Linked DNA regions of Homo sapiens: region 1 is linked to region 2. Evidence: fine-mapped expression QTL. A gene starts in region 2. The other region holds a variant in brackets. All regions are shown on one strand. Distances are between the middles of the regions.

Evidence for each region. PIP is the estimated chance that this variant, and not a neighbour inherited with it, causes the effect.
Region 1: its variant is fine-mapped to the expression of CBLN4 in testis (GTEx, PIP above 0.99).

The regions. Positions count from the first base shown.
Region 1 is chr20:55,735,965-55,751,999 of GRCh38, reverse strand. It overlaps LOC107984001 (a long non-coding RNA gene), which reads left to right and starts at 6,969. Exons shown (of 4, transcript XR_936884.3): 1 at 6,969-7,090. The variant G/A (reference allele first, on the strand shown) is at 6,980.
Region 2 is chr20:55,998,696-56,014,730 of GRCh38, reverse strand. It overlaps CBLN4 (cerebellin 4 precursor), which reads left to right and starts at 9,212. Exons shown (of 3, transcript NM_080617.6): 1 at 9,212-10,850; 2 at 13,884-14,000; 3 at 15,977-16,035. The coding sequence starts at 10,560.

The sequences.
Region 1 (16,035 bases), 260 kb after region 2:
CATATATTATATATTGTAAAATAATATAAAATATGACATATATTATATATTGTAAAATAATATATAACATATAATATATCATCTGATATAATTAATGTTATATTAATTTGTAGTATAATATATAGATATTACATATTAATATATGTAATATATAAATATATAACATATATCTGATATATACTTAATATCTGATATATACAGTTATATATTTTATATATTTGTATTCTATATTATATAATATATATTATATATTACCAATTATATATGAATATAACCTTATATATTAGTATATTATCTGATATGATATATTACATATTAATCATATATAATATAATCATATATATCATATCTTACATATATAATACCATAATACATGCAATTATATAAGTATATATTATGAATATGTAGCATTCATATAATGACTCTATCATGTGATGATATAATGACTATATCATACGGTGTTATGAATGATATATATTATATATCATTTTTTAATATAATAAAAAAGAATGAGGATAAGTACCTGGAAGAATAATATATATATAAAAATTACATATAATAATTATAGGCATTTTTATATTACATAATTATATAATAATATAATTCTATTGTATAATTATGATAGTATACATTATATTAATGTATCATATATTAATAAAATTGAATATATAGTAATATACATTACATATTTATACATTATATTAGTATAGAATAGTATACTATATAATTATAGGCGATAATTACTATATGTAGTAGGTTATATATATTAAACTTTGTATATAATATATATATAGTTAACTTTTTGTTCACTTGCTCTAGTGCTTACTAATCAACCAGGGCATGAATTTTCATATCAATCCCAGTTCTTAGTTGTAAATGCGACATTCGGCCATGTCTATTGGGTATTATTTCTGATGACTTATTTTAATAACGGGGAGGTGATAATTTGATCTGTTTTAAATCAGGGCTTCCTGGTAATATGACAGTGCATTCCACTTGACTGAGAGTTTCTTCATTATTGTTCCTCATTCAACTTCTGAAAAATATTCCATGTATTTTTTTTCTTCAGGAATTCTATAGCTGTGTCCCAACTACCTGCTTTACTTAATACATTTATTATCTCATAAAACAACTGGTAGCAGGTGAGGACAGGTACATTTTCTTCATCTTCTGTGTACCTCGTAAGATCTTGCCCAGTAGTATTAGCACACAGTTCCTTGGGATCTGGGTCATGGTGTTCCCAAGGTACACTGCCTGCACATGGAGACTCCACAAATGTTTGTTGAATGAATGAGGATAAGTGCATGGAAGAACACTGATTAATTATTTTTGAATAGTTGACAAGTTTTGAATTAGGTTAATACTCTTTTTTATTATTTGTTAATAGAAATGGTGACCTGTTGATTTCTAGTATAGGAATCTAGGTACTGATAGATATGCTGTAGGCAACTTGTGTGCCTAAGAGTATTTTCACTTAAGAGTTTAGTTAAAATTAAGGGACAGTGCCTAGAAATAAAGCCCAACTTCAGTGGATTCCCAATTAAATGCCTGAAATCTCTATGGTAAGTAGGTGGCATATAAACAAATGCACATAAAAAGAATTCCAATGATGTACAATGGTTAAAAATGACATATTGTATTTTAAGTCAGTTTTCTCATTATTACAATATTATTAAGTTAGTTTTCTCATTAATAGAGAGTTATATATTGCATATAGTATTTTCCAGTGTTCCTTTGATAATTTTTATTTTGTGCTCTCTGATTATAGAAAATGTTGAAAAAAAAGAACCATCCAAAAAATAATCTATACCATTCAGATAATACTACTACTTCCTTGATAAACTTTCTATAGTTATTTATAAGAAGTACATTTTTAGTTCTTTCTGTATGTATATATTATTGCGATTACATGGTATTTTCAGGCCTGCTTTTATTTTATTCAGCATTATATTAGAATTATTTCCCCATGTCACTAAATATTCTTTGAAAATATTTTTCTCCCAATGGTTGTATAATATGACATTACACGGATACATCAACATTATTTAAGCAGTATTCTGTTCTCTGGCATTTAGGTTGAATATCCTTGTATATATGTGTGCTTTTACTTTTTCCTCCCACAGTTTAATAAGAATTGACTCCTACATATGAAGTAATTGGTTAAAGGTTTAAGACCATCTTAAGGCATTTGATGCACATCAACACATTTTTCAGAAAGTGCTGCCAACTTCACTAACACTCACAGTGAAAGGGAATTCGTATGGTATTATGCCATTGCCTTTGCTAAATATTGCTATTTTATTTAAGAAGATGACCAGTTTGATGGATTCATATTACAAGCTCCCAGTGATTTAAAATAGAGTGCTCTCTAAAATAATATGGACCACAAGGCACGTTCAATTTTCAGAAGCCTGAAAGTTGTAGATTGTATTGTATAGGATAGTAGGTAGAGATGTTATGAGAGCCTAGAACGAATAGCTGCTTATTGAGTGATAACATTTTGACTTTTTTTTTTTATCAGAGCAAACATCCCTGTTGCTGTATTATTAATTTCTCAGAAAAGCATGGCGTTGAATACTTTTCTATTTATATGGTCCTCCCACCACCCGCATCCAATCCCTAATTAGCTACCCTCTATGGGAATACGTATAGAAATGTGTTGGAGATATTTTTTTCCTTCAACTTTTAAGTTCAGGGGTACACGTGCAAATATGCAGGTTTGTTACATAGGTTAAGCACGTGCCATTGTGGTTTGCTGCACCTATCAATCCATCACCTAGGTATTGGGCCCAGCATCCATCAGCTATTCTTCTTGATGCTCTCCCTCCCCCCTGCCCCACCCCTGACAGGCCCCAGTGTGTGTTGTTCCCCCCAGTGTTTCCATGTATGTCATCATTCCACTCCCAGTTATAAGAGAGAACATGTGGTGTTTGGTTTTCTTTCTTTTTTTCTTTGCTTTTCTTTTTGAGATGGAGTCTCGCTCTGTCACCCAGGCTGGAGTGCAGTGGCACGATCTCGGCTCACTGTAATCTCTGCCTCCTGGGTTCAAGCAATTCTCTGCTTCAGCCTCTCGAGTAGCTAGGATTACAGGCACCCACCACCACGTCCTGTTATTTTTGTATTTTTAGTAGAGACAGGGTTTTACCACCTTGTCCAGACTGCTCTCGAGTGCCTGACCTTGTGATCCATCCGCCTTGGCCTCCCAAAGTGTTGGGATTACAGGCTTGAGCCACCGCGCCTGGCCAGTGTTTGGTTTTCTGTTCCGGTGTTAGTTTGCTGACGATAATGGCTTCCAACTCACATGATCTCTTTCCTTTTTATGGCTGCATAGTATTCCATGGTGTATATGTACCACATTTTTTTATCCAGTCTATCAATTATGGGCATTTAGATTGAATCCATGTCTTTGCTATTGTGAATAGTGCTGCAATGAAGCTACGCATGCATGTGTCTTGATAATAGAATGATTTATATTCCTTTGGATGGAAATATTCTTTTCCTCTTATAATTTGCATAGCAAATTTGCCTGCTTTAAAACATAGAAATTTGTTTTAAATATATAATTTTCCTGCTTTAAAACATAGAAACCAGGTCATTTGGAATGTATTACAGCTTTGTGGCATCTAGCAAAAATTGAATACATGTATTTCAGAGTTATCTTTACCTTATTCATCAAAGAATAAGGGGCTTATTTCCCAAATTAATTTATATGTGATTCCCTCAAGGTGAAGATCCAGAGTCATTTTGTTCACCATTATAAAACCTTACTCATAGAGGGTGATCAAAATATACCTGATGCACAGAGAGAAACCCATATTCTTTAGTTATAAATGACAGAATACTGTAAGAGGTTTAGGCTCATAGGAAAATTATCTGAATTTAGAGGACATATTGCACACAAGAGGTAATAAAAAAAGAAATGGCAGAGGTTAGAATTTCAGTTTTGATTAAAGGAAATACTTTCCAATAAGAGAATTAATATGTTTTCTCTTTTCTTACTCCTGAGCCCACTTTAGTTTCCTTCCAAGCTAGAAAAACAAGAAAAATAAGTGAAATCCAGCTCTCCATTGATGACTATCTAACCATTGGTGGTTTGCAGGCTTGCGTTCTGTTCTGTCTGATGAGGACATCATATTCAGACATGGGCTGTTGAGAATCCCATTGGCTATCACAGACTCCCTGCTGCATAAATTGTGTCACAACAAAGGCTTTGACTTTGGTTCTTTCTTCTCCTCTCTGAGGAGCCCAGTGTGAGGGATCCAGTGTGGCACAGCTCTTTGTAGTCTCTCCATTCATCTTTGAACTTTCTCAAACACCCATGAAAAAGATACTTTATGAGCACTATCATTTTCTCAATTTTTTTATTTGTGTATATCTTTAACATCCCTTTACACATAAATTACTTAGCAAAAATTGGTTGGATGTTCTTGAGTAATTTTATTTATTCCATTCCTTGGCATGTAAGTATTTTGTTCACCTTTTAGGAGCAAAGCACTGGAGCCAAATCATACCAGGTCTCTGCTGGGAATCATATATTAATAAAATCCTCAACCAAATCTATATGTAATTGCTACCAATAAAAATACCTTAATGGTAATGAACATAGTGCTATGAGATTGTTTAATAGGATTGTTTCACTCAGTAAGAAAAAGTAGGTGGAGAGGAGGATTTCTGGCAAGAGAAAGGGCCTACAAAGACGCTGAACCTTGGGAAGAATGAGAGACCTTTGCAGATGAAACTCAGAGAGAAGGAAGATGAGATCTATTGAGGCTGGGGTAGGAAGCGAAGGCTGGATTATTCAGAACCTTGCAGGATTTTGGTCTTTGATCCCAAGAGCAATAAAAAGTCACTGAAATATTTTAAGTAGAGGGTGACATGATTGTTTTTGCTTTTTGTATATAAACTTTCTACTATAGAGAATTTTAAGTATATTTTTAAAATGGAAAAATATTAAACCTCCATGCACCAGTCTACTAGCTAACATTGTTCAACTCATGGCCAATTATGTTTCACCTGTGACCCAACCCACATACCCCTGCATCTTGTCACATTTATTTGAAGTAAATCTCACATACCTTATCATTACGTCACTAAGCATATCTTTAAAAGTCAAGAACTCTCATTCCAAAAAATAAGCAGGAATATCTTTTAAAAGCTCCAGTGATTTTTAATATGTAATATCATCAAATATCCAGTGTTCAAATTTTCCCAGTTGTAGTGTGTGTGTGTGTGTGTGTATATATACTTTCTTTGAATCAGGGTTCAAATAAGATTCATAAGTTGCAGTTATTGATATATCTCTTAGGTGTGTTTTAATGTGTACATTCTTCTACCATCTCTATTTTTATTCCTTGCAATTCATCTGTAAAGAACCATGTTGTTTATGCTAGGCATATCCCACTGTCTGAGTTTTGATTGGTGCATTTCCGTGGTGGTTTTAACGTATTTCTCTGCCTTTGGTATTTCCTGCAAATTAGACCTTGAGAGGCTTTTTACATTGCGGATTCCATTTTTTTGGCACGTTGATCTCATAGGTGGTGGTTTGACCATGAGGAGGCACATAGTTGTCTGTTTTTTTCCCTCTTTAAGTGATATTAGCAGCCATTGATAATCATTGCCTAACTTCCATTAATTTACTGGAGTTTTAAATAGTGATGTTTGAATTCTATAATTTCTTCTTCATTCATTCCAAGAAGTGGAACGTTTTATAAAGAGAAGTTTCTTCATCAGCTGTTTAGTTACCCTGAGTTTGAATCCACATAGGAAAGGGAGATACATGCTTGTCTTTCCCTTTATTTAACATTTTTAAAATAAAGAAATTTCCTACATTTCTCCAATGAGGGATTTTTTTCATTTGATTTTATTTTTAGAATCAGTATAGATGTATGGATTTAAACTTATTTCGTTGTTTTAATGAATTGTACTAATTGTCTTCATAGGCCAAAATAGCAAAGTCAGCACTAAGTCTTAGGACTATCAGAATTCCCACCTAAATCTTTAGCTGAGGCCTGGAAGTTGAGCCTAAGCTATCTGGGCATTATAAAATGGGAGATTGGATAGGGGGAATGAAGGGCATGTGAAAATCCTTTGCTTGCCCCCTATTAATTTGTGTCTTGAAATGTCTATATCATCTCAAAGGATCTAAGAATGGTCTGGCCCACAGATGGGAGGGAGGCAGTTATAAATGTGGAAAATCACAGAACAAGGTTATTGTATTAATTTTCTGTGTTATATGATTTAACCACAAATTTAGTGACTTAAAACAACACTCACTTATTATCTCGGTCTCCATAGATCAGGAGTCTGAGTACGCAGCTGATTCTCATGCTTGGAATCTCAGCAGATTGAAATCAGGTGCTGGCCATGGCTGCACGCCCATCTGAGGCTTGGGGTCCTCTTCCAAGCTCACTGGTGGAACAATTTAGCCCCTTGCTATTATAAGACTGAATCCCACAGCTCCTAGAGGCCACCCACTGTTTCCTGTTATGTGGAATTGCTCAAAACAGGGCAGTTTTTCTCTTCAAGGCCAACAAGAGGGTATCTCTACTCTTTTGAGTCTCTGACCGCTGCACCCTCTTTGAATGGGCTTTCCTGATTCGGGCAGTCTCACCCAGGATAGTCTCCCTTTTAATTAACTTAAAGTTAACCAATTAAGATTTTTAATTATGTCTACAAATATATCCTTTGACATTTTCATATAATGTAGTCTAATCAAGGGAATATTACTTGGAGGAGGACAGATTCCTGGATGACCTTGGCTGACCTAGCTTTCCCACCTCCTGTTGGTAATTCTCAGAATAACTCCGGAATGTACTGAGAATGTAGCACCCTGAGATAAGGAGGAAGGGTGCGGAACAACCCAGGCTATGTCTGCATTCTTCCTAGAACAGAGTGTTCTGCAGCACGTGGGCTCAGTGAGCCAGGTGCTGCCCAGGGTATATAAACCCAGAGCCGTGCTGGGGTTTCTCAGCTGTGATGC[G/A]ATGCGGGGCATGCGTAGATGAGACTCCATCTGCCCGGAGCAGCTTTCCTGAGCCTTGGAGGATAGCTTCGTCATGGCTCCTAGACTTCCGTTTATCCTTGCTGCCTATCTGTGAGTGACAGGTCTGCTTTGCCTGACTTGTGTGAGCGTTCTATCTCACTGGACTAGACCTAAGAACTTTTACATTATTCTACCGTGTTCACAGGGGAAGGGATTAAACAAGGGCCTCACTGAGGGCCATGGTAGAATTTTTCTGTCTCAGATGTTTGTAGTTTACCGTGAACTCACCATATTGCTGGGTGCAAGGCATAGCCCATCTCTGGGCCTGGATTTCCCTGCTTATACCCTGAATATACTAAACTGAATTATTCCTAAGGCCCTCTCAACACTAACATTCTATGAGTTTACTAATCTGCTTTTCTTACAGTGTTTTTGATAGTTGTTTTTTAGGTTTATATTTTACAGCAGTTTTAGGTTTACAACAAAACCGAGTAAAAAGTACAAAAGGGACCGGGCATGGTGACTCACGTCTGTATTCTCAGCACTTTGGGAGTCCGGGGTGGGTGGATAACCTGAGGTCAGGAGTTTGAGACCAGCCTGGCCAACATGGCAAACCCCGTCTCTACTAAAAATACAAAAAATTAGCCAGGTGTGGTGGCATGTGCCTGTAATCTCAGCTACATGGGAGGCTGAGGCAGGAGACTTGCATGAACCTGGGAGGCGGAGGTTGCAGTGAGTTGAGATCCCGCCATTGTACTCCAGCCTGGGCAACAGAGTAAGACTCTGTCTCAAAAAAAAAAAAAGAAAAAAAGAAAAGAAAAACTACTAAAGGTTCCCATACACCCCCTGTCCCCATTTCCCCGCAGATGCACAGCCTTCCCCACTATCAACACCCGCACCAGAGTGGCACACGTGTCACAATGGGTGAATCTACACTGACACCTCATTGTTAGCCAGGGTCCATAGTTTACATTAGGCTTTTATTCATTTGACTTTATTTTGTTTTATTTTTCTTTCCCAGCTTTATTGAGCTATAATTGACAAAGAAAGATTGTATCCATTTAAAGCTGTATTCACAATTTAATGAATATTGGCCCCAGTGCTTAACACTGACACTTTCCACAAAATAAAAAAGGATAAAGAAGTCCCCAGATCAGTTAACTGCAAAAAGACACACTTGTAAATAATTAAATGAGCTCTACCCCTTTGATGGGTGGTTTTTTACACAGACTGTAAGTCAGTCATTGAGTTTAAAAGGCTTGATGTACTTAAATCTAGCTATACAGAACCCATACATTTGCCTTTCCAAGATAAATACTTATTTTAACAGGGTATGTTGTACATATGTTTTTTTTTTCTTTTTCATTGCACATTTCATTCTAAAAATAAAAACGTGAAAAAAACTTTTTCTTTGTTTTACAGAAATTGAAACATGCTAGAGTGAGTAATTTTTAATAAGAGGAACAGCATAATTAGTAGGAACCCCAGTTGATAAAATACCTGTTTAATTTAAGCAATTGGCAAACTACTTTTAAAATCAGACTAAAGTTAAATACAGTACTTGGAATTATTTTTATGTGCAATTTAGGGCTCTATGTAACAATATAATATATTTAAGCATTTACTATAGAATCCTGGGGAGAAAATTCAAATCTAGTAGCTACTTAACAGGGTGTCACTTCAACTCCCGACGTTTATCCCCTTAAGCTTTTGTCTACTTGAAGCACAAACTACGTGAAAGACACCATGGCATAGTCCAGGAGGGCCAGGGATGATTTGCAGTAGGTTATGCAAATTGGTGTAAGACAATGTGGTCACTTTTTAAAAAAAGGTATTTGTTCATAGCCTTCAATAGTTACAGGTAGAAAACAGCTGTACATCTTTCCCACAGGTTTGTTCCAGGGTGGCATATTAAAATGAATGCAATTTCAGTCTGAATGATGGAGACATCAATGTATATAATAAGTATTTAGAAAAGCAGACACAAAAGCAGACCTACGTTCTGTCCTGTAAACTCATCACAATCCAGTCTCTCCTTCTAGACCAGAGTTTCTCATTTTTGGCACTCGTGACATCAATTGAATAATTCTTTGTTGTGGGGCTGTCCTGTGTATGCAAGAGGTTTAGCACCTCCCCTGACCTCTGCTTGCTAGATGCCAAACTCCCCCACCCCCACACTGTGGCAATCAAAAATATCTCTGGATATTGCCAAACGTCACCTGGGAAAAGTACCTCATGGAGAACCACTGTTGTAGCTGAAGTTCCCAGCCGTCTCTCCATGACTTGGTGCTCATGTTTTCTATGTGCCTTATGGGTTACTCCTATAGCAACTAAACCACAAAGATATGTCTTGTCTTCTTGCTTTTCCCACAAATGTCTTACGTAGACTGGGGGAAGAACCAGTACATAAAGAGTGTTGACTGATTGTTTTAGGTGCTCTTCCTGTGTACTTCTGTTTTGTCTTTCCATGACATAACCCTTCATTCACTTTATCTTTATGTTTTAAATGCTTTGTTCTCCATACTAGACCACGAGCCCCTCTAGAAGTAAGGCAGAGTCGGTCTTGCTCACTGCTATATCCTCAGTATCAGTCCCCGACCATACTAACAACAATAACAGCAATAGTTATCGGGTGTTATGCTATGTGCTAGCCAAAACTGAGTGCTTTGCGTCTGTTAACTCATTTTATGCTCACATCATTCCATGTGCTGAGAATTACTATCAGACCCATTTTATAGAAGAGGAAACAGGTACAGAGGGGTTAAGGGAATTGACCAAGGTCAGAAAGCCAGGAAATGGTACAGGATCAAATTTAGGGAGTCTGATTCTGGAGTCTGTGCTTTTAACTTCTAAGCTATGCTGTAGATAGTGGGAGGTCAATGAATACTTGCAGAATGATTGTGCCAACTATGGAAGAAATGGCAGCAGACGAAGGAAGGCTGGGTGTGGAAATCAACAATTACGCTTTAAAGTAAAGGATCTACATGCATGACTTGGAAACCCAATGACTGTGAAGCAGATGGTGCTGAACGATGATCAGCCCAGGCAGGAGTGTGTGTCTGCCTGTTATAGGAGTGCACACACAGCAATTCAGGGTGCTTAAGCAGATGCCCATTCTGAGCTCTTGTATTGGGATTCAGGGAGCATATACCCTAAGCTAACCCAAAGGCTGTTGATTTCTCAAGCCTTCATATCTTGGCAGTTTCCATCTGTGTAAAATAGAATTTCCAAAAGGGCCCCAGTCCTTATCTCACTCCCTAAGAAAAATACAGCTTAAAATAATGTGATTGTACCTAAGTTGTTTGTTTTTAGTATTTTAGGAGTTCTTTTACAGATCAGTGCATAGCATTCATGTGTACAGTATCCACAACACCTGACGCTAAATCAGGATGAATTTTGAGAGCGCTAAGAACCAATGGGTCCTCAGCATTCTGTTCCCTGAAAGTCTTCACTGACGGAACTTGCCATTTGGACAACATCGATAGTGGATCACGTCTGTCATACGATCCAACATTAATGGATAGCCACTTGGCAAAAGAACCCAGGCAATGACATTGGCTCCAGCCACTACTTGTTGACACTTCCTTTTTTAAATTAATTTTTTAAAAATATGCAAAGTGCACAACATTGTTCCTCCCTTCATTCATGGGATAATTGAATTGCTACTTGCTTGAAATTTGAGGACTTAACAGATTAAGTAGATTAATACAGTCAAGCCAATAAATTAATATGAACTAGCAGATATTTATTCCAAATATAGATCCCAAATGACCTATAATATAGATTTTGATTGAATTCAGCAGTATCATGTTACTTCTAATACTTCTCCACTGAATTTACCTTGAAATCAGTGGAGAATAGAGAAGATAGTTCTGGGGATAACAGAAAGCCACTAGGGGAATGTCTGAAACCACTTTGAACTCTCTTGTTTTATCTTCAGCATACCTAGGAATTTCACTCTATTCCACAAATATATCATGCATTTATAATATCTAAGGTGTTTTAACTCCCACCTCTACCATATATTAAGTTATGTTGTCATTTTTATATGGTTGGAAAACCTCCATATCTACTATTCACACCCCTGGTACATACAGCCCAGTGATTGAGAAGCACAGATCACAGAAATGTGTGGTGAGACTAACAAAAAGACTAAGAAAGCACAGCCTTACCTTTTAAGGTGCTTAAATCTGGTATTGACACTTGCAGCTAATAGATGAATACTTAGTCCTTGAGACATAAGATTTTATATGTGTTATCTCTTTTGTTTAATCTTTACAATAATTCTGTGAGGTTTTTATGATGATGATGATAATTGTTCTTTGGATAAAATTGCCTTAAACTTAAGAATGCTTGGGCAACTTCAAAGTCATAAAGCCAGAAACTGGTAGAACTGGGGTTTGGACCCAGAAATTCTGACTTCAGAGAACACGCCTATGCAGCTCCTCACCTCAAAGTCCAATGAAAATGAGAGAATTCATTTACATATGGGGAAAAACAGCATAAGAACTTGTATTGACTTTCCAAATCTCATTTTAAATATAGAAGAATAATGTCCTCATTGTGAAATACACAAATTTGAAGTATACAGTTTGATGAGTTGGGAAATGTGCATACCTATGAAATTCATGTCATATCAAGATGTAAATCATTGACATCACCACGGATCGTTTTCGCGTCTGACGGGATTCTGCCTGGACAAGCCCTGCATCCCCAATGAGGCAACTGCTGTTCTGATTTCTATCACAATAGATTAGTTTTGCCTGTTCAAAGTCTTTTTATACATAGATCTATACAGTAGGTACTCGATTGTATCTGGCTTCTTTCACTCAGCATAATGTTTCTGAGATTCGTCAATGATGTTTTGTGTGTCCGTGGTTCATTCCTCTTTATTGCTGAATCCATACTCTCCTCCACTTTCATTTCTTAACAAATGAATCTGTCTGTGGGATTTAGGGTACTAAAAGGGGACTTGACAGAAAGGAGTCCACAAGTCTTCAATGTTTGCCATGCTATAGGTGTCTTTTGCTGGCTTGATCTGGCCTATGCCTGCACACATTCCTGTTGGACTCTGCTCTCTCAGCCCAATCATTTGGCCACAGCAGTGGATTGGATGAAAGACTGATTGATGCACAGGCTAAAGATTTGTGATGGTCTGGACCCAAGGAAAGCTAACGACCTCTGAGGTTCCTTCACACTAACTTGCGTCCTATAAGATAATTCTATATTTTATGGTGAACAACTGGATCCATTAAACCTTCACTTTTGGAAAATGTGCATGCAAGGCAAATATAAAATGCCATCAAAAAGCAAGCCAGTGGCGTTGCACTTAGGTCCAGTAAGCTGGGCTATGACTGTGTCCTGCTCTTGACTTCCTTACCCTGCCATTGTTCCCTGCAAGACTAAGGAAGAACAATGGCGAGCAGGATGATCAAGAGGATACCAAAGGGAATTGGGACAGCATGAAAAGGGGTGGGTAGTAACAGAGGTGGGAAGTTGCTTGAGTGTTGAGGGCACAATACTTAAGCTACCTTAATTAAGCTAAAGATCATGCAGTGAAGTAGAGGGCAATGAGCTTGTGCAGGTAAATTGGGTTCAAATTAGAGAATTCTGGAAAGCCAGAGTAAGCTGTTTATATTTAATTTCATAGGCACTGGAGAACCATTTTGAACATAGAACTGTGAGCTGAATAGCCCTTGAGGACAAATAATTTGGCAGAAAGCTCTACCAAGAGGTGGGAAAAAAGCAAGTGCTATATTATAACCTGAGCTATGGCGGCACACAGACCTGAGAAGGAAGGCGTGATTTCATTTCTTGCTGGAAGAATTTCTTTGACTCATTTTCCTGTTGGGGGGTGTGTGTGTGTGTGTGTGTGTGTGTGTGTGTGTGTGTGTGTGTAATGGACCTAAAACTTGCTGCTTTGCAGGTTTTAAGCATAATTAACCTCACTGTGTTCAGACCTTTAAGTTTATTATATTCTAGACCTTAAGCCAAGGCACAAGTAAACCCAATTAGGCTAGTATTAGCTTTGGATTAAATTATATTAACTATTAAAACAACATAACTTATACAGAGTCAGCATGTTTAATTCTCATTGTAGAAAACACTTACATGCTAACTTGATATTAAAACCTGAGAGAAAGCAAATCTGCATAATGCGATAAAATCACTTTTACTTTGAGAGTGAGATTTTTTCAGATAGTGAAATTGTTATAGAAACAAACTGCCAAAGTAATGTCCAGTCAGCAGATGAGAATCAGGAGAAAAAAAGTTTCTCAGTTTGGAGCCAACAGGTGTTGTTAGTATTAAACTGTAATTAAAATAAGAAACTAATTCATGTATACTTTGGTCTCTCTAAGAGTTAGGAGAATGGTATGGGAGAAACTAAAGCTATTAAATAAATACTTCCTATTTAGGATAGTATGTTATAGGAAGAGTGAGTGAAAAGAAAAAAAACCTAGGTATTTTCCACAGGTACTTACTCTTTCTGTTCTACATTTAACTTTTTTTTTCTACATCAACTACTTTATTGATTTTATTTCAATAGTCTTTGTGATACAAGTGGTTTTTGGTTACATGGATGAATTATATAGTGGAGAATTCTAAGTTTTAGTGCACCATTACCTGAGTGGTATACATTGTATCCAATGTGTAATTTTAGTCCTTCACTTCCCCTCCATCTTCCCCCTTCCGAGTCTCCAAAGTCCATTATACCACTCTGTATGCTTTTGCGTATCCATAGCTTAGCTCCCATTTATGTGAAAATGTACATTGCTTGATTTTCCATTTCTGAGTTACTTCACTTACAATAATGGCCTCCTGTTCCATCCAAGTTGCTCCAAAAGACATTTTACTTTGTTTTGAATCTGTCAAATGGTGGGAACATGAGATGTTAGATATTAGACATTATTATCATCAGTATTGTATATGTTTGAGTGTTATCATCATTATTATCAGTATTGTATATGTTTGAGTGTTTCTTTGATGTTCTTTGATGTATGGGTTATAATGAAATATATGATTCATGGTCCAAATATCAATATATATGGAACATCACTAATAATGTAGGATATAGTATAAATATTAACTATCTTCCATAGATAGAAAATACATCTCAAGAAAAAAAAAATGAATTAGATTTCCCTAGCAGAAATGCATAAAAGTGATGAACAAAGACTTTTAGGAAAACAATATCATCGCTCGTGCCCCTAGAATCCATCTCTGATGTATGAGAGTTATTCAAGATCTTTAGGAAGTTTAATTAGTACCTTTTATAGTAGACTATTTTGTTGTTGTTATTAAGAGACAGTGGAGAGTATTCTTTTAATGCTAGGCTGATGTTAGCATGAGTCCCGGCTGCGAGACCTTCAGCACATTGGTTAATCTTTCTGAAAACTGGCTTCCTCATCTGCAAACTAGAAATAATAGTGGTATCATAGAGGTCCTACCTCCTGAGATTTTTGTAATATGTAAATGAGACAGTGAAAAATAAGCAGAGTGTCTAGTATGTAGTAAACATTCAATAAATATCTCCATGAGATTTTGTTAGGTATTAAACTTTGTAGGTGTTAAAGAAGGTTTAGAAAGAGATTTCATCTGCATAGGGTAATGTCCAGTTAGACGGGGCCTCGTATATTTGGGCAGCATTTTGAACTGCAGATTGGGGAATAGTTCTTTACTTTGAAGTTTTAGAAATTTTTTTTCAGGAGAGATCAACTAGAAACTGGAACAAATAATTTGTACTCAAAAAAGACTTGGGAGTATATAGAAAATTGATTTATTCTTCTTTAATGATAAATAGAAGCTCCAGGTGAAATCCTTCCAAGCTTTTATTGGTTAAGCTTACTCATCTACACAATCAGAGTAGTGATGGTGTCTTTCTTCTTGATATGTTTCAGGTAATACATGGTTAATCCTAAGTACCTATTATAGAGTGAGAGCTCAATAAGGAGTAGCATATATCATTAGCTATTGTTGATGTGTACATTCTTTTATATGTAAAAGCGAAATGAGGATTTATTAAGATTTATGAAGAAGACTGCTTATTTTATTTGGAATCTGGGGAAAGAGTATATATTTCTCCATTTATCGAGATAGTTTGTGATACCTATGAAGCTTTTGCACATACAAAAAAACAGCTATATATTATATGCCACCTGTTTGTATACTATATCTATTGTTCTACAACTTGATATTTTCAAAAAATATATAGGGCCACACATTACGCTACTCAACTCATTCTTTTTAACAGTTGTATATTAGAATGGACATGCCTTGATTTTTTCAATGTATTATGACAATTTCAGGCAAAGCACTTACCTAAAATTTTCTTTTTTTAACTTTTAAGTTCAGGGTTACAACTGCAGGTTTGTTATATGGGTAAACTTGGGTCATGGGGGTTTTTTGTACATATTTCATCACCCAGGTATTAAGCCTAGTACCCATTAATTATTTTTTCTGATCTTCTCCCTCCTGCCTCCCTCCACCCTCCTAAAGGGCCCAGTATGTGTTGTTCCCTTCTATTTGTCCATGTGAAATGGGGGAAGACTTCCTGATTCAATAAATGGCTAATATGCAGAAGATTGAAACTGGACCCCTTCTTTACACCATATACAAGATTTAACTCAATATGGATTAAAGATTTAAATGTAAAACCCAAAACTATAAAAGTCCTGGAAGACAACCTAGGCAATACCATTCAGGATATAGGCCTGAGCAAACGTTTTGTAACAAAGATGTCAAAAGCAATTGCAAAAAAAAAATCGACAAATGGGATCTAATTAAACTAAAGAGCTTCTGCATGGCAAAAGAAACTATCAACAGAGTAAATAGACAACCTACAGAATTGGAGAAAATTTTTAAAAACTATGCATTCAAAATTTTCTAATATAGCAAAGTTAAGAGAATTTTATTATGGCCACATATATACCCACCACCTAGATTCTAACATTAAGATTTTGCTATACTTGCTTCTTTATCTATGTAACCTTCATACACTTTCCCCTAAGTAATTTGACCTGCATATTATAATCAAAGTTCAGTAATTATGTACAGCT
Region 2 (16,035 bases):
GTTGGAGTGTAAAACTGGGAACTGTAGGGAGAAAAATAGGAAGGAGGTAGAAAAGAAGACATAAAGCAGAGGAATCACGGAAAGGTGAAAAGAAAAAGAATAAAATAAAGTAAAATAAAAGCAATAAAGGGGAGCAATGCAGAATTTCTCTGGTCTTAAAAACCATTAGCTCTAAAACATAGTCCATCTCTTTCCTCAATTATTTTGTTTTTCTTCTCTATTTGGCCTTATGAAGACTACAAACCCATACAAAGCCCTATAAAATTCATTTTGTGTGTGTGTAGTAAGGGAATATTGGATCCAGCCCAGAAGGGCTTCAGCTCAGTCAATTGCCAAACACCAGCTGCATAAGTGATGATTTGGTCCATCCAAGAGGTAGTTATTTAGCCAACAGACAGATGGCCAAGAAAGTCAAGTTACTTGGTGCATTGTGTGTCATTCAGGAGGCTCTTGGCCAGCTAAAATAGCTGGAAGCTAGTGGATTCCGAAGCCATGGCCCACCCTATTAGGCTTGCTTCTGGAATCCCCCCGTTCCCCAATTAGCAGCAAAGGACAAAGCAGGGCAGCTTTTGCTTTATGGAGCCTACAACCTAGCAAAGAGGAGCTACTCTGCTAACCCCAGTGGTAGATAAGAAAGTGGCTGAGCTGGTAGCTTGGCCAAAGCTAAGATACTCATAACCCAGTGTGAGGAATGCGAAAACAAGGAACAGCTGTGATAATGGGCATCCAGGGAAAGGAAGGGCTACTTACAGCAGTTTTTCCAGAAGTGCATTAAATTTCCAAGTAAAGAAGGATGGGTTATTATGCATCATAAATAATTACTGAGAATTAGAGAAAACATAAGCAAATTTTTGAGACCGTCTAGTTAAAATTGGAAATACACTCGAAAAGGGTACCCAAAGTTAGAATCTATGCGGTGTCACCGTATTCATTACTTCAACAAACACTTAATATACCTGCACCATGTGTCAGGGACTAGCCTGGGCAACCTCTGCCCTCATGGAGCTTATTATTGGCTGGGAAGATTCTTTCAGTCAAATAAGACAAATAAATGTAACATCTCAACTCTGGTAACCACTAGGAATGAAAGGCACATAAAACCATGAGAAGAGCGTAGGAGAATTTAACCACTTATCATCAAATTATAATCTCATTACATTTAATATATCAAATCTAATTATAATCTAATTATATTTAGTATATTAAATATTTTAATATGTATACATGTGAGTGTAATAAAAACATATATTCCCCCACCTTGGCTTATGGTCAATAGCCTTTATTAAAAATTTTGTGATATGAAGCCTGTCTTCTTCCTCTGAACTTTGTCACTTGCACATTATTGACATTAATTCTTCTTGGAATGCACTCAGCTTCTCCTCTGAATTTGGTGTCACCAACTACAAAATAATGAGTTCTGAGCATTCTAGGAGCTCCTTGCATTTTTGTTTCAACTTTTCTCATATTGTCTAGGGAAAGACCTTTGGATATAAGACAGATGTCCAGCCATGAAGTCTAACCCGTTTGTTGGCAGCAGCTTTTCAGATGCTGTATTTCCTTATCTGTAAAATGGTGGCAACAAGATCTACCTCTCACATGAGTGGTGGGAATTCAGTGGGAGAAATTATCAGCAATTGAGGTTACCCCAAACAAAACAAGACAAAACAAAACAAACAAATGTAGTTGCATTGCATTCCAGGGTTAGATTCTAAAATTAGTACGCAAGGAAAAAATTTCCTAGAGTCAAACTTACCTTGAAAATCCTTTTGAAGTTCTCACCATGGTGTCTGGTACACCAGCTCTCAGAGAGCTCACCGCAGCCAGTTTTCCTTTCAGTGTCAAAACAGATTGCTGTTTCTTCAGCTGAACATCAGATTAAGTGGTTGGCTTGTTTTAGTGGTCATGTTGTAGGAAAATACTTTCCTTTAAACACTAGAATCACACACAACGGCACAAGCTGCTCATATCTGAGAGGCAGCAGGAATGGAGCAGCAACAGCAGATCCGCACTTCCCATCTCACGCTTACAAAGGACAGATGTTCACTGAGTGCCCTGGCGAGGAGAGTTGCCTATTGGACTGAAGCTATTTTTCTCTCTTCCCACAAACCACACGCGCTAAAGTCAGGAAAGTTAAAAGTGTCTAGGACTCTCCATAGTTGGCATACTAGCTCCTAAGATGCCCGTGTTGGCTCCTGGATATTTAACAACTGCCGTGTTATTTTCTGGTGTCTACCTGGCTTTCTGAACTCCTGTTTCTGTGGTGACTGTTTCTGACCAGCTGTTCTTGACTTTCTGTATAATTTCCACTTTGAAGAATCCATCTATTTCCACTCAATGCTTCTTTCAGATGAGACATAATGATTGAGAGTATGGGAAGAAAGAAATAAAAATAAAATTAAACCTGTTGTTCATCCCCTGTAGGGAGCTCACAAACATGCCTGGTGTCTTCGCTTCATTCAAGAGCTTTAGCTCTGCATAATGATAAGCATTGATCTATCAGCAATGGCTGGCCCTGCAAACTCGGGTGTGATTATTTTCTGGGCATCTGAACCTGGATTGTCTCTCACACTTGGGTACACTTCGTTTTCCCCTATTATAATGTCTGTGAGGTTAAGTTGGGCCATTGCTTGCCAATAGTTAATGGGCCTTGGTTTAGAGTGTGGTGGTTTGACACCTTTAGTCATTAGTAGAGTCTACAGATTAATGATAATAATTGCTACCCTTAATTGAGCCTTTCCTGTGTGCCAGGTGCAGAGCTAAATGCTCTGCCCAAATTTCCCCACTCAGTTCTCACAAGAAGCTATGGACTGAATATGATTTTCATGATTGCAATTTTCTTGGATGAAGGAAGGTTTGTAACTTGCTGTATGGTCATAAAGCTAGTAGGAGGTAGAGCTGACTCTAAACACCCTGTTTTTAACCATAGAGCTAAAAAACCCGAATGCAAATGGACTCTTGTGGCATCACGCCAATGGCATCTACAAAGTCAAACACCATCTGCTTCAGATTTACCTGGGTGCTGGTTAAGTAAACCTTCCCAGTTCATGGGCAGAGCCATTATCTCAGAGTAAGGCCAGAGAGTCTCTGTTGGAAAGAAGCATCCCAGCTGATTCTTACAAGTAGCCATTGGTTTGGACCCCACATTTAGACTCTTCTTATCTACACAACATAAACACGAGTGGCCAGGCACATGTCATACACCCAGCACTGAGCTATGGCTTTCCTAGATGCTAACATACTATATAAAGAAAGCCAAGTTGAATAAAATGTAGCGAGAAATTTTGACAGCATGCATCAGTGTTACTAGTTGCAATGGAATTTTTTTTCTTAAATGTATACTGTGAGGCTTTCTATATCAGAGCATCTTTCTAAACTTGGAGTAAGTGATTTTTAGAGTCGGATCAGTATAACAAAAAAGGGAGATTGCTGTTCAATCAATGCCACTTTTTAAACTTTAATTAAGAGTAAACTATGGAGAAGAAGTGTGAATGTGATAGATCACTATTGGATGATCTACTCAGAAACCCTTTCTTTTTTAAAAAATATTTTAAATGTGGGCTGGGCGCGGTGGCTCACGCCTGTAATCCCAACACTTTGGGAGGCCGAGGCAGGAGGATTATGAGGTCAAGAGATCGAGACCATCCTGGCTAACATGGTGAAACCCCGTCTCTACTAAAAATACAAAAAAATTAGCCGGGCGTGGTGGTGGGCACCTGTAGTCCCAGCTACTTGGGAGACTGAGGCAGGAGAATGGCGTGAACCCGGGAGGCGGAGCTTGCAGTGAGCCAAGATCATGCCACTGCACTCCAGCCTGGGCAACAGAGCGAGACTGCACCTCAAAAAACAAAAAATTTTCAAACGTGAATCACAATGTAATACACAATTGCTGTGAGCACATATATAATAAGGAAACATCTGAAATACAATTAATAGTGTTTCCTTCTATTCAATTCCTTTAAATTTGACAAGTTGTTGCCAACTTGTATTCTCTGTGTATTGAAATACACACATATCTGTACACACTTGCAGGGAATTAACTTGGAATCACACAACACAAATTAGTCTGCCTCTTGTTCTTCTTCCCTTTGCCACATATTGCTTATATTAGCTTTCTAGGATTTTTCCTTTTCCCATGCCCCGCCCCAATTTTCTACACACCTCATTGCTGGGATATCAGTCACGTGTGCAGCATGATTCTGTTTCTACAGCCAAGTTGATTGGTTTGGGATTGGGCATCTGAACGCAGATGGCTGCAGTGCATCTCTTCTCGGGGATCTGGGGGCATCTCTGAGTGGATGGCTTTGTTATGTGTGAAATCTGGAAGTATCAGCTGCCATTTTCCCTCATGCGGGCCTCAGAGAACGGTAGATTGCAGTGAGCCAAAGAATAATGAAGATGTGCCCAGGAGAGGGGAAGAGAGGGAGGGACACAGAGAGAGCAGAGAGAGAGAGAGAGAGAGAGAGAGAGAGAGAGAGAGAGAGAGACAGTGGGGAGAGAGAAAGAGAGAGATGGGGGAGAGAGAGAGAAAGAGAGAGACGGGGAGAGAGAGAGAGACTGGAGAGAGAGAGGGAGAGGGAGGGAGGGAGAGAGAGAGAGAGAGAATTTTTTAGGTTCTTTCTAAGATTTTACTACAGTCTCAAGGTTCAACTCAACACATTTCAAGATGTGGCCCTTTCCACAAAACCTTTTCTCACTGGGCTTCCATTCTTAGTAACTAAGGTGGACTTGACGTTTTAAGCCCCCAACATTTCTGAAATAATTTTACTTTTCCTATCATACTTAGATCATAGTGATTAAATGTTATATTGTTTCCCTTATGAGAACTAAAAGCAATGATGTTACTTTATTCAGTAAACTTTATTTATGCATACCTACTCTCTGCTAAATTCTGTCCTCCCAAAGAGTTAATGGTCCAGGGAAAACACAACAATAAATCAACTAAAACCATTATGATAAATATAATGACTGGAACATGCTCAGGGTATCATGGGAAGCCAAAAAGGGGCATCAAAACCTGTCTGCAGCCATGACCAAGACGTCTCACTTCTCACTGATGTCTTAGACACGTACCTTATTTGCCAATGGGGTGAGTGGAATAAACTATCTAGAAAAACTGTCCCAAACAATTTTCAAATTCTAAAACCAATTGAGAAGTATTTTTTACAGCATCCATCTATTTTTTTCCCACAATACCATCCTCATATGAAACAAGTCTGTCATTTGGCTGTCTCCAGAAGGAGCTATGAAGATTTACTCAACATGACTCTGGAACTTTCCAGACTATGTAAGTTCTCACATATTGGTTGTTCATGGAGACTTTTTCTTCTTCTTCTTTTTTTCTAATATACTTTAAGTTTTAGGGTACATGTGCACAACGCGCAGGTTTGTTACATATGTATACATGTGCCATGTTGGTGTGCTGCACCCATTAACTCGTCATTTAACAGGTATATCTCCTAATGCTATCCCTCCAACCTCCCCCCACCCCACAACAGTCCCTGGTGTGTGATGTTCCCCTTCCTGTGTCCATGTGTTCTCATTGTTCAATTCCCAGCTATGAGTGAGAACATGCGGTGTTTGGTTTTCTGTCCTTGAGAGAGTTTGCTGAGAATGATGGTTTCCAGCTTCATCCATGTCCCTACAAAGGACATGAACTCATCCTTTTTTATGGCTGCATAGTATTCCATGGTGTATATGTGCCACATTTTCTTAATCCAGTCTATCATTGATGGACATTTGGGTTGGTTCCAAGTCTTTGCTATTGTGAATAGTGCTGCAATAAACATACATGTGCATGTGTCTTTATAGCAGCATGATTTATAATCCTTTGGGTATATACCCAGTAATGGGATGGCTGGGTCAAATGGTATTTCTAGTTCTAGATCCCTGAGGAATTGCCACACTGACTTCCACAATAGTTGAACTAGTTTACAGTCCCACCAAGACTTTTTCTTCTTAAGCTACTTACTCTCCCTCAAAAAAGATCATTAGCTTGGGCTGATAACTATCATTATAAAGAGCAAAGGGTAATTAAGCAACTCAGTGGAACTTTGTCTGGGTATGATGCAAGCCTCACTGCTCTCTCTCTCTCGATTTTCCATCTTCTGCACGACTGACCTGCGGCTGTCTCTGCTGCATGATGCATGGAGTCTGCTTTCATTCAACCACAGTGAGGCCCTTAGAGCTGAATACCTTGTGTGTGTCTGTCTTTGCCTTCTCAGAAACATTTTCTTCACAGTCAGAAAATAGCTCATAGATCCTTACTGTCTTGGGCTTGCTTGAAACTTGGTTTCTCTAAAGGATGGCTGGACAAGCAGTCATTGAATTTACTGACCTCAGAAGTATTGCTTTCCTATGCAAGGATAGTTTAGATTCTAATTTACTTTAAAGTTAAGCCCAGCTGCAGAGAACTGAAATGCATTTCTGCGTCATCTCTAAAGGTCTAGGAGAAAAAAAAAATCCTAGGCATCAAATACAATATGGGAATCTCAGAAAGGGAAAATATTTGGGTCACTGCTAGGTCTTCTAATAGCATATTTTCAACTGGAAAAATACAAGAAAAAGAAAAAGAAAAACAGATCTATGCTGTGGTTGGAGAGAAACTTAAACTTGATCTTGTTTCTTTTCTCCTGGGGATGCTGGGGCTGAAGTAGGGGGTGAGGAACAGGTGATGCCTCCTTTCCCAAAATGTTGGAAAAGCATTTCCTACAGGCAGGAGATTGGATTTGTTAGTCTTTTGGCAAGAGATCCATAGCCTTTTGTGGTATGGTTTCTGGGACAATGTTCTAATGAGGATTCTGGATGACAGGGAGCGGTATGTTACTAAAACTAGCTCAAGGGAATTGGGTTTTTATTTCAAAGACATAGGAGGATACCAAGAAACCCAAGGTTAGGAGAAAATGTTTCTGGAACTCTTGTAAGCAAGAGTTCAGAACTGGCGATTGACTATTCACTCCCTGTACTTCTTAGAAGTGCTCATGCTCCAGAATTGGCTTCTTTCTACAAGTGTGGCCAGTCCTCTGGTTTATTCCAATACCTCTTCTGCTTCAGCTTGCAGATGACTCCTACATGGCCACGTCAGTTTGGGAGACTACAAACCTTGTCTCTGCCACATGTAGTGCTTACTGGAAGCTATTTTGATGTCTCATTAAGATTGCAGAGAGAAAATCTGGCAGCCCCAAGTCATCTGGCCAAGTTGGACCATACAAATCTTGGACTTCTGGTATCAAATGCATTGATGGTCCTAGAACCCAGGGGCTATCCGTGTTTAATCAACTGTTGTGGGAAAAAGAGTCAGGACCCTCTGATTCACAATATAAGATAACTTCTCTTAGCGGGGGTCCACAGAAAATGCTGTGTTCCTTATCTTCAGAACACTTTGAAGAGCAGAACATCCTTTAGTAAGGAACCGAGACCCTTATCCCCAATTATTAAGGAGGCTTTGAATTTAAATTTTACTGAGAGAGACTCATTTAAAGCAGTTTATACTATAATATGAGTGATAATTACCTTCTATTAGGAAGCATTCAGTCATTTCTCAATTATTGAGTCTTTACTATGGTCACTATGCAGATTTTGGGACTAAAAATGAATATTTTTGGTGAGAGAAAGAATAGGTTTCTTCAAATCTCAGTTCTTGCGTGCAGGAAGTGCCTGGAGAAGAAAAGGAGGTAGAGAGAATATATTGGAATTGGTGAGGAAGATAGCTTATTTTCTATTTAACAATTCAACACAGTTTTTTTTTTTTTTTTTTTTTTTTTTTTGTCAAACTTCTCCCAGCCTGAAATTGAACAACCAAAGTTCTAGTTATTGAACAGCTGTCCCAGACAAGGAAGGCAGGGTGCTTACCCCTACAGGAAATAAAAGGAACTAAATTCAACTCAGCACCCACCCTCAAAAGACTGCATCAAATGAGAAGAAATTGCTGCTGTTAACCAGGCAGACATCCCTAAAATCTGGAAGAGAGTTACAAAGTGCAGAGAGGGATCAGGTGAAGATTGTGCTGGGCTTAGGGTGGGGCATCAAAGCTGGGTAAATGGTGGCCATCTTCAGAAGGCACTAGTTCACCTTGTTTGGTTGTAGCTTAGATAGGTAACTTTCAACATTTTAACAAATAGCATGGTACTAGCACCTGCCAGCCGGAACTGACACCGGCCTGTAGTCTCAGCTACTGGGGAGGCTGAGGTAGTAGAATCGCTTGAGCCCAGTAGTTTTGCATCTAGCCTGGGCAATATAGCGAGACCACCCCCCACCACAAGTAAAATAAAATCATAAAGTCAAAACACCTGATACTGGCCCCACTGGAGCAGAATCTGAAGGCCCCTGTGGCACCAAGTATTAACACTTTAGTTGAGAGATTATAGGGAGGTGAGGGTTAGGGGATTCCTCGTAGTGTCTTCAATTTTAACAGTTGGAGCTGGTGCTTATAGCTCAATGCCCGGCCCTTCTGAAGGAAGGGAAAAAGGCTGGAGACGAGGTTCACCTTGTTTTGTGGAGGGCTCGAATGCCACGCTCATGAGGGCGTCCTTCACTCAGGAAGGAATGGGAGCCGTCCATCCCAAGGACCTCCCTCAATAAACATCCCTTCCATTCATAACTAGCCAATGCCATTTTAGGAGCTCCGAATGCCTGGAGGGGATACTGTTTTGGTTAAAGATACCATACGTGTCTGCCCTCTGGCAGCTGGAAGTGTAGAAGAAATTGGGGAAGGGGCGCCATGACCCCACAGCATCACAGAATTGGAAAGCTGGCGGGATGGGGGTGGGGAGGACCTTAGTTAACGCCGCGCCCCCCTCTCAGAGAGGGTTAGTGACTCGGCCAAGTTCACGCAGCCGGGTCCAGACAGAGACAAACCTCCCTTCCCCGTGGTAGCTGCAGAAGAGGAAGGGAACTCTTGCAAATCAGAGGCCAAGATAGCAGTGGAGTGGCACGGGGGCGGAAAGCGCATCCAAAGGGGAGAAAAATGCTGTATTCCTAGGAGTGGGATTGTCTTTTATTTTTATTTTTATTTTTATTTTTTTATTGTTGTTGGCACGGTTTCGGAGGACTTATTCTTGCTGAGTTAACTCCCTCTCCCACTCTTTTTTTTGGCCATGCCTGGGGAGGATTCGCGGTGTGGGGGGAAGGCGCGCCCCTGCGGCTTCTGAGGCTCATCTTCCCGGAGCGGAAGGAAGGAATCAGGCACCTCCTCCCAGCCGCCCCCACGGGCTCTGGTCCGCCCCAAGGCTTCCCTGAGCTCGCCAGGCCCCAGGGCTGTGTGGGGCGGGCTCCCGGCCAGGCGCGGTCGGGACGCCCGCCGGTCCCCAGGTTCGGGGCAGCGCGCAGCGCGGGTCCGCGGCGGCTTATCCTTTTTCGCGACCCGGCCTGGCAGCGCCGCGCTCCGCTTGGAGGGCACTCGGCGGCAGAGTTCCGCGCTGGGAGGGGTGAGGGGACCAGCCGCCTCCTCTGCGGACTCAGATCGAGCAGGAGAGAGTGGGCGCGGAGCTGGGGCCAGCGCAGGGCCGTGGGCTCCTCTCTGGGCACGCATCCTTTACGCCACGGGCTTTCAGGGGCTGAGGGGCCTCGAACCTTGCCAATCACCAGTGCTGTGCGCCCCGCTTGCTTTGGGGTGCGTTAAACGTCAGGAGAGAGCTGCTCAGATGGGGTCACCAGACGCCTTCTCCCCCTTTTCTCGGAGCCCGCGGGTTGCGCGATAAGCCAACCCAGCCGGACGCTGCGCTCCTATAAATAGAGCGCGTGTGCCCGCTTCGCGCTCTCCGGGCTGCACGAGGGACGAGAAAGTTGTGCGCAGGGACTGGGGGCGGGCGGCCAGGCAGGAGAGGACCCCGCCGGACCAGCCGCCCTGAACGCTGCGCCCGGCGCCCTGGACCTGATCCTGCGAATCCGCGCTTTCGGTGCGAGGGACCTGGCTAGCCGCTGCCTCCCTCCCTACCTCTGGGTGACACCAGGTTTGGGGGATTTTTTTGACCAGGCGAAAGTGGGAGTCGCTGGCGTCCTGGCCATGAACACAGCCTCGCGTTCTTCTCAGCCTGGGAAGGACCTTCTGCCTCTGTAACTCGTCCCTGCCGCAAGCCAGACAGGACTGGCACCCGCGCCGCTGGGCACCCGCCACCCTTGTGGCTTCTCTTTGAGTCCCCTCTTTTTGTTCCTGCTCCGTGGTTTAGCTGGTGGTGCTTGAGTTTGGGGTGAGAATTTATTATTATTATTATTTTTTGCCTTGAGGTGTGAATGTGAGGGTTTGATGACTTTCAGATGTCTAGGAACCAGAGTGGGTGCAGGGGCCCCAGGCAGGGCTGATTCTTGGGCGGAGGAGAGTAGGGTAAAGGGTGCTGCATGAGCTCCTTAAAGGACAAAGGTAACAGAGCCAGCGAGAGAGCTCGAGGGGAGACTTTGACTTCAAGCCACAGAATTGGTGGAAGTGTGCGCGCCGCCGCCGCCGTCGCTCCTGCAGCGCTGTCGACCTAGCCGCTAGCATCTTCCCGAGCACCGGGATCCCGGGGTAGGAGGCGACGCGGGCGAGCACCAGCGCCAGCCGGCTGCGGCTGCCCACACGGCTCACCATGGGCTCCGGGCGCCGGGCGCTGTCCGCGGTGCCGGCCGTGCTGCTGGTCCTCACGCTGCCGGGGCTGCCCGTCTGGGCACAGAACGACACGGAGCCCATCGTGCTGGAGGGCAAGTGTCTGGTGGTGTGCGACTCGAACCCGGCCACGGACTCCAAGGGCTCCTCTTCCTCCCCGCTGGGGATATCGGTCCGGGCGGCCAACTCCAAGGTCGCCTTCTCGGCGGTGCGGAGCACCAACCACGAGCCATCCGAGATGAGCAACAAGACGCGCATCATTTACTTCGATCAGGTCAGACCCGGGGGGAAGCGAGCACCTAGGGGGTGGGCGGTCTCCAGGCACCTCAGCACGAGGCTGCCTGCCCAGGCTAAGCTGGTCCGATTGGGAAATGGGGAATCATGTAAAGCACTCGCCTTCCCAAATATGCCTGGGTCTGAAACTTCTACCGTCCCTCTTCCTACCCCTCTCACCAGCCCCGGCTCCCATTTCTTCCGGGCCCCTAAAAGAGGCTGCTGCGGCGGCGGGGGAGAGGCTTGGGAGCCCAGAGCCCGGCAGCGAGAGCTCAGGGCAAGTTTCGAGCAACAGGTCGGCGGGAGCCGAAGGGCACCTGGTCCCTGGACGTCGTTATCTCTTGGCCAGATCTTGGTGCCCTTGCTCAGACTCCTCTGCGGGTGCCGCTGAGGCTGCTCCCTGGGTACCTTTGCGGAACAGGATAAATGTTTGATTTGTTTCTCCCAGGTAGAGAAGCTTCTCTCCCAAGAGAGCCCCGGGCTTCCACACTCTTCAGAGATCGGGCAGGTGGCCGCGGAGGGCGGGGGCAGAGCCGGGGGTCAGATCTCGCCTGCAGGTTCCACTGTTCGTGTGCCAGGCACCGCTGGCACTGCCGCTGCCTCGGAGTAGGCAGCAAGCCCTTCTCCGGTACTTAGAGAAAAGTTGCGGAGGAGGGGAGGAAAAGGAATTTGGCAACTGCGCTGAGCTCCTGTAGGAAAGCGCTTGGGAGCCAGTTCTCCCTTCCCGGGCTCATGTCCTTTCAGAGAATTGCAAATAGCTGGGGAAAGACAGACTTTGAGGTTGATGAGAGTAGGGGAAGAGCTGACGGAAGCTGTAGCTGCTGTTTAGCGACCTGGTGCTCCGTGTTTGGCTTGATGAGAAACCCCAGGATATCAGCTTACCTTTAGCAAGGGGTCTTAAGGGAGAAAACTGTCCTCAGAGTTTTTAATTTCAGCCCCAACAGTATCCAGAGTCTTTTTAAATTCCAAATTCACAGTTCACAGTTGTATGCAAAGCTGCAATGTGCAGGGGGCACAGGTTAAGTGGTGTTGCAGGATGTGCCAGGGAAAGCACGAGGTGACATCTGTATTCCTTGCTTAATTTTTCCTAACTAATGCACTCTCCAGCTGGCCAAAGACAGAGAATGCCTCTCTAGGGGCTTAGTATTTGATAGACATAATTTTTAAAGAATTAAGTAGCTCCATTTGGGGTTTTGGTGCAGTATTTTCCATCTTGATGGAAATAAAGTCTAGCACCACCCCTAGTTTGTATTTCAATGCTTTAATTAAATGTTGGAATACTGTGGGCATTGCACTATCCTCTATACAGGGTGTTCCTTTCAATGACCTTTCCATCAATTAGAAGAGGAAAAGGGTTTGTTCTTCTTTTCAGTGAGCCTTGCATCTTAGAGACAAGAACACACATTTGGTTATAAATCTCGATGTACCTGGATGCTCCAATTACAGTGTAGAGTCAACATCCAGTTTTATATGTAGCCAACACTAATCAGCTATTTTCATTATTGCTAATGAATTATGCTACTTGTATCTGAATCAGGAAGTCACCACTAAGCACCTCAAATTATTTTAATTGTGCTTGAAAAATTTCTTTGTAAAGCCTCTGCTGGGGATTATTGCACAGCTGGTGACTTGTTGAAAGACCATCTATCATCAGGTTACAAAAAAAATCTGATGCTTACTTGGAAGAAGGCGAAATCTCAGAATGAAATTATACACGTACATGTGTTTTAAGTTAGGTGTTGAGCCTGATACATCTGCTTGACTGTCACTACATTCTGGTATGTTGCCCAGAGGTAATAGTACATTTTTAGGGAATTATGCAAGAGGCTTGCAAGTGTGTTAATATTGGCAAGAATGCAGTGTTCGAAAGAGATAGTAGCAGATTGCCATTGATATATGAGAAGTATATCTTTTTAGGGACCTCTTATTATTTTTGAATGCCACTTACAGGTGTATTTCTTGGAAAGAAATGGAACAAACCCTGGTTATTTTAACATCCATCCTCCATCCCAATCCCTCTTTCTCATAGAAAGAGACTTACCCATGTGACATTGCAAATTTAGCTTAAGAGGTCACTTATTAAAATTTAGAGTTAATTTTATAACCAATAGAACTAGGCTGAATATTTTGGAATACAAAATGCATTGTTGCTTTCTTGGGAAACAGTATCTAATTTCACTTTTGAACCTTGAACTTCAAATAAAGAGCAGGTGATTGATAGGAGGTTAATGGACAGCCCGGGGAGGAACAGGGAAAGCCACCTATTTCATAGTTTAGCCTTCTCTATGCTCTCCTCTTTGGCAGCCCACAAGGGCTGACTCATTGCCACATTATTATAATTAAGGCCTAGCTGGCACAGGAATGAAAAAAAAAATGGTAACAGATCTTAGGAGAGGGGTGGTGGTGGCTCAGAGAAGGGCCAGGCATTCAGATCACTTTGTGCACCAACTGTTCAGTGTCAAGGATTATGTCACATGGTGGAGGGGGTACCCATGCCTCTGTGGTTTGTCCAGGGATGCTGCGGAGAGCTCACAGATGCTGATTGGCTGGCTTGGAAACGTCACCTCTGGACATTGCAAAGGCTTGTAGAAGGTGGGAATGTAAACACATAGCGGGTGCCTTTTATCCAACTCTCAAGGTAAAGCTAATATTTATAAGTTCTCAAATGTTAGCTCGATGTTTCCAGAGCCATTGGGCCTTGCTGGAAATTGAGACATGAATACAAAGCAGTTACTTTATTTATTCTTATATCATTTAAAAGACAGAAGAACCTTCCAGTATTCCAGTCAATTTTCCAAATCAGTTAAGAGGAAAGATACAGAACTAGATGTTTTATTTTCTATGATTTCTTAAGCTAGTTGCCAAGAATGAATGAATGAACAAAAGAAAAAAGAAAAGAAAGAAAGAGGAAGGAAGGAATGAAGGAAGGAGGGAAAGAAGGAAGAGGAGAGGAAGAGAGTGAGAGGAAGAAAATTCATTTTAGTTACAGAAGAAAATATAATAACTTATTGTTATTTATTATTTTTATTTGTAGATCCTGGTGAATGTGGGTAATTTTTTCACATTGGAGTCTGTCTTTGTAGCACCAAGAAAAGGAATTTACAGTTTCAGTTTTCACGTGATTAAAGTCTACCAGAGCCAAACTATCCAGGTGTGTGTTTTGACCTCTTCCATCCATACTCTCAACCAACTGTGCTTATCTTTAGTGGGTTATATATTTAAGTACTTATCCAAAGTTGTGTTTCCACAATAGAAATAAGCAGCCATCTTTATCATTTATTTTAAAACACTTAATTTCTAATTTTTTTCTCTTTAACATCCATTAAGACGTGACAAAAAGCGTATAGAAAAATAGAGAATTGAAGTTATTACCTTAATAACAATCAAACATTTTTTAAAAATCCATGGTTGAGTAAAAATTCAGTGACACAAATCTCTTTGTAAGATCATGCTTTCATTTAATGCATGTACAAGAATTACTTGAACTCATAAGAAAAAAACTTGTAAGACTAGTACAGCTTTACAAGTGCATACTAAATAAATAAAACACATTTGCTATTTTTTAAAATTATGAGATACAGCTAATCAGTAAGAATAAGTCTATGAAGGAGGAACTATTCAAAATACATTTTTAAAAAACGGTGTTCTATGCGTATGCTTGTGTTTATCCTCAGTTACTCTGATGCTAGTGAATTCTTACCAACTGCAGTTCCACAGTTAATATATTTTGTGTTCTGCTTTCTAAGACAATGGGCTTGACCTTACATTCAAAAGCAACAGTGGAGCTTGTTCCAACAATATTCCAGTATGCTAATACTAAATGACACAAATACATGTGCATGGAATTCTAAGATAACCTTTTATCTTATGCTCAGTATTTATGTTATACATTATGTCAATATGAATGATAGATTACATGCTTATCTATTAATACTTTTACATGTCCTAGTAAATGGATAAATGGATCAGCCTCAGATTTAATTTATTCCATATGACTTTTAACCTAAAAAAATCTAGAAAACAAACTTACTTCCATGGAAAAGTTTTCCCAACCCCCAATATTTAGAAATGTATGCAATGCTTGACACAGTGTAATCAAAATTGAAGAATAGAAAATAGTTAATACAGTTTTGAGTTGATTCTAATTATCTGTCACTGAAATCTCTAAAATTTAAAATCTAAATCTAAAATCACTAAAATCACTAAAATCAGTGATAGTGGTGATTATTATTTTTTATTTTTTGGTTTTTCTCTGAGATAGGGTCTCACTCTTTCACCCAGGCTGGAATGCAGTGGCATAACCATAGCTCACTTCAGCCTCAAACCCCTGAGTTCAAGCAATCCTCCTGCCTCAGCCTTTTGAGAAGCTACGACTATAGGTGCATGTGACCAATCAGGCTAATTTTTAAATTTGTTGTTTTGTTTGTTTTAGAGATGAGGTCCTGCTATGTTGCCCAGGCTGGTCTTGAACTCCTAGCTTCAAGTGATCCTCCTGCCTTGGTCTCCCAAAGTGTTGTAATTACAGGCATGAGCCACTATGCCTGGCCTGATGATTGTTTTTGATGCTTGTTTCCTATCAGGGAAAATAGAAAAAGAAATAAACACACACAGACACATATATACACAAACTTCATTATTTCAATTGATTTTCAGTAGTATGCATGTTACAGCTGCACAAAAATTCGCAAGGATGTTGGTAGGATTGGGTTGTATCTGGGTCTCTTATGTCAGTGGGCAGAGGGTCTCTTTTACGAATGTACCGGGAAGCCACAAGCCTGCTCTATTTCCAAAAGATTATTGTTGGGTGGAAGAGTTAAGTAAAGCAGTAAGCTTAATTTATGTGCTGAAGGGAAGCTAGTTTTCACATGGCTAGGTTGGTCTCCATAGATGTTATTCTTTTGTAGGAATTTAAGGAAATTCCAATCAGAAAAAAAAAATTAAAAAAATCAGTTCAGCAGACATGTGAAGTATGGCCCCCACAATTGGCTAATTTGAAAGGAAGGGAATATATTTCCTGAACATCAGGTATTTTACTGGGTCTATCATCTTAGACATTATTTATTCTCCCCAGTAGATGTTTTGACTTTAAAGAGAACTTTTCAATTATTATTATTTTTCTTCTTCTAGGTTAACTTGATGTTAAATGGAAAACCAGTAATATCTGCCTTTGCGGGGGACAAAGATGT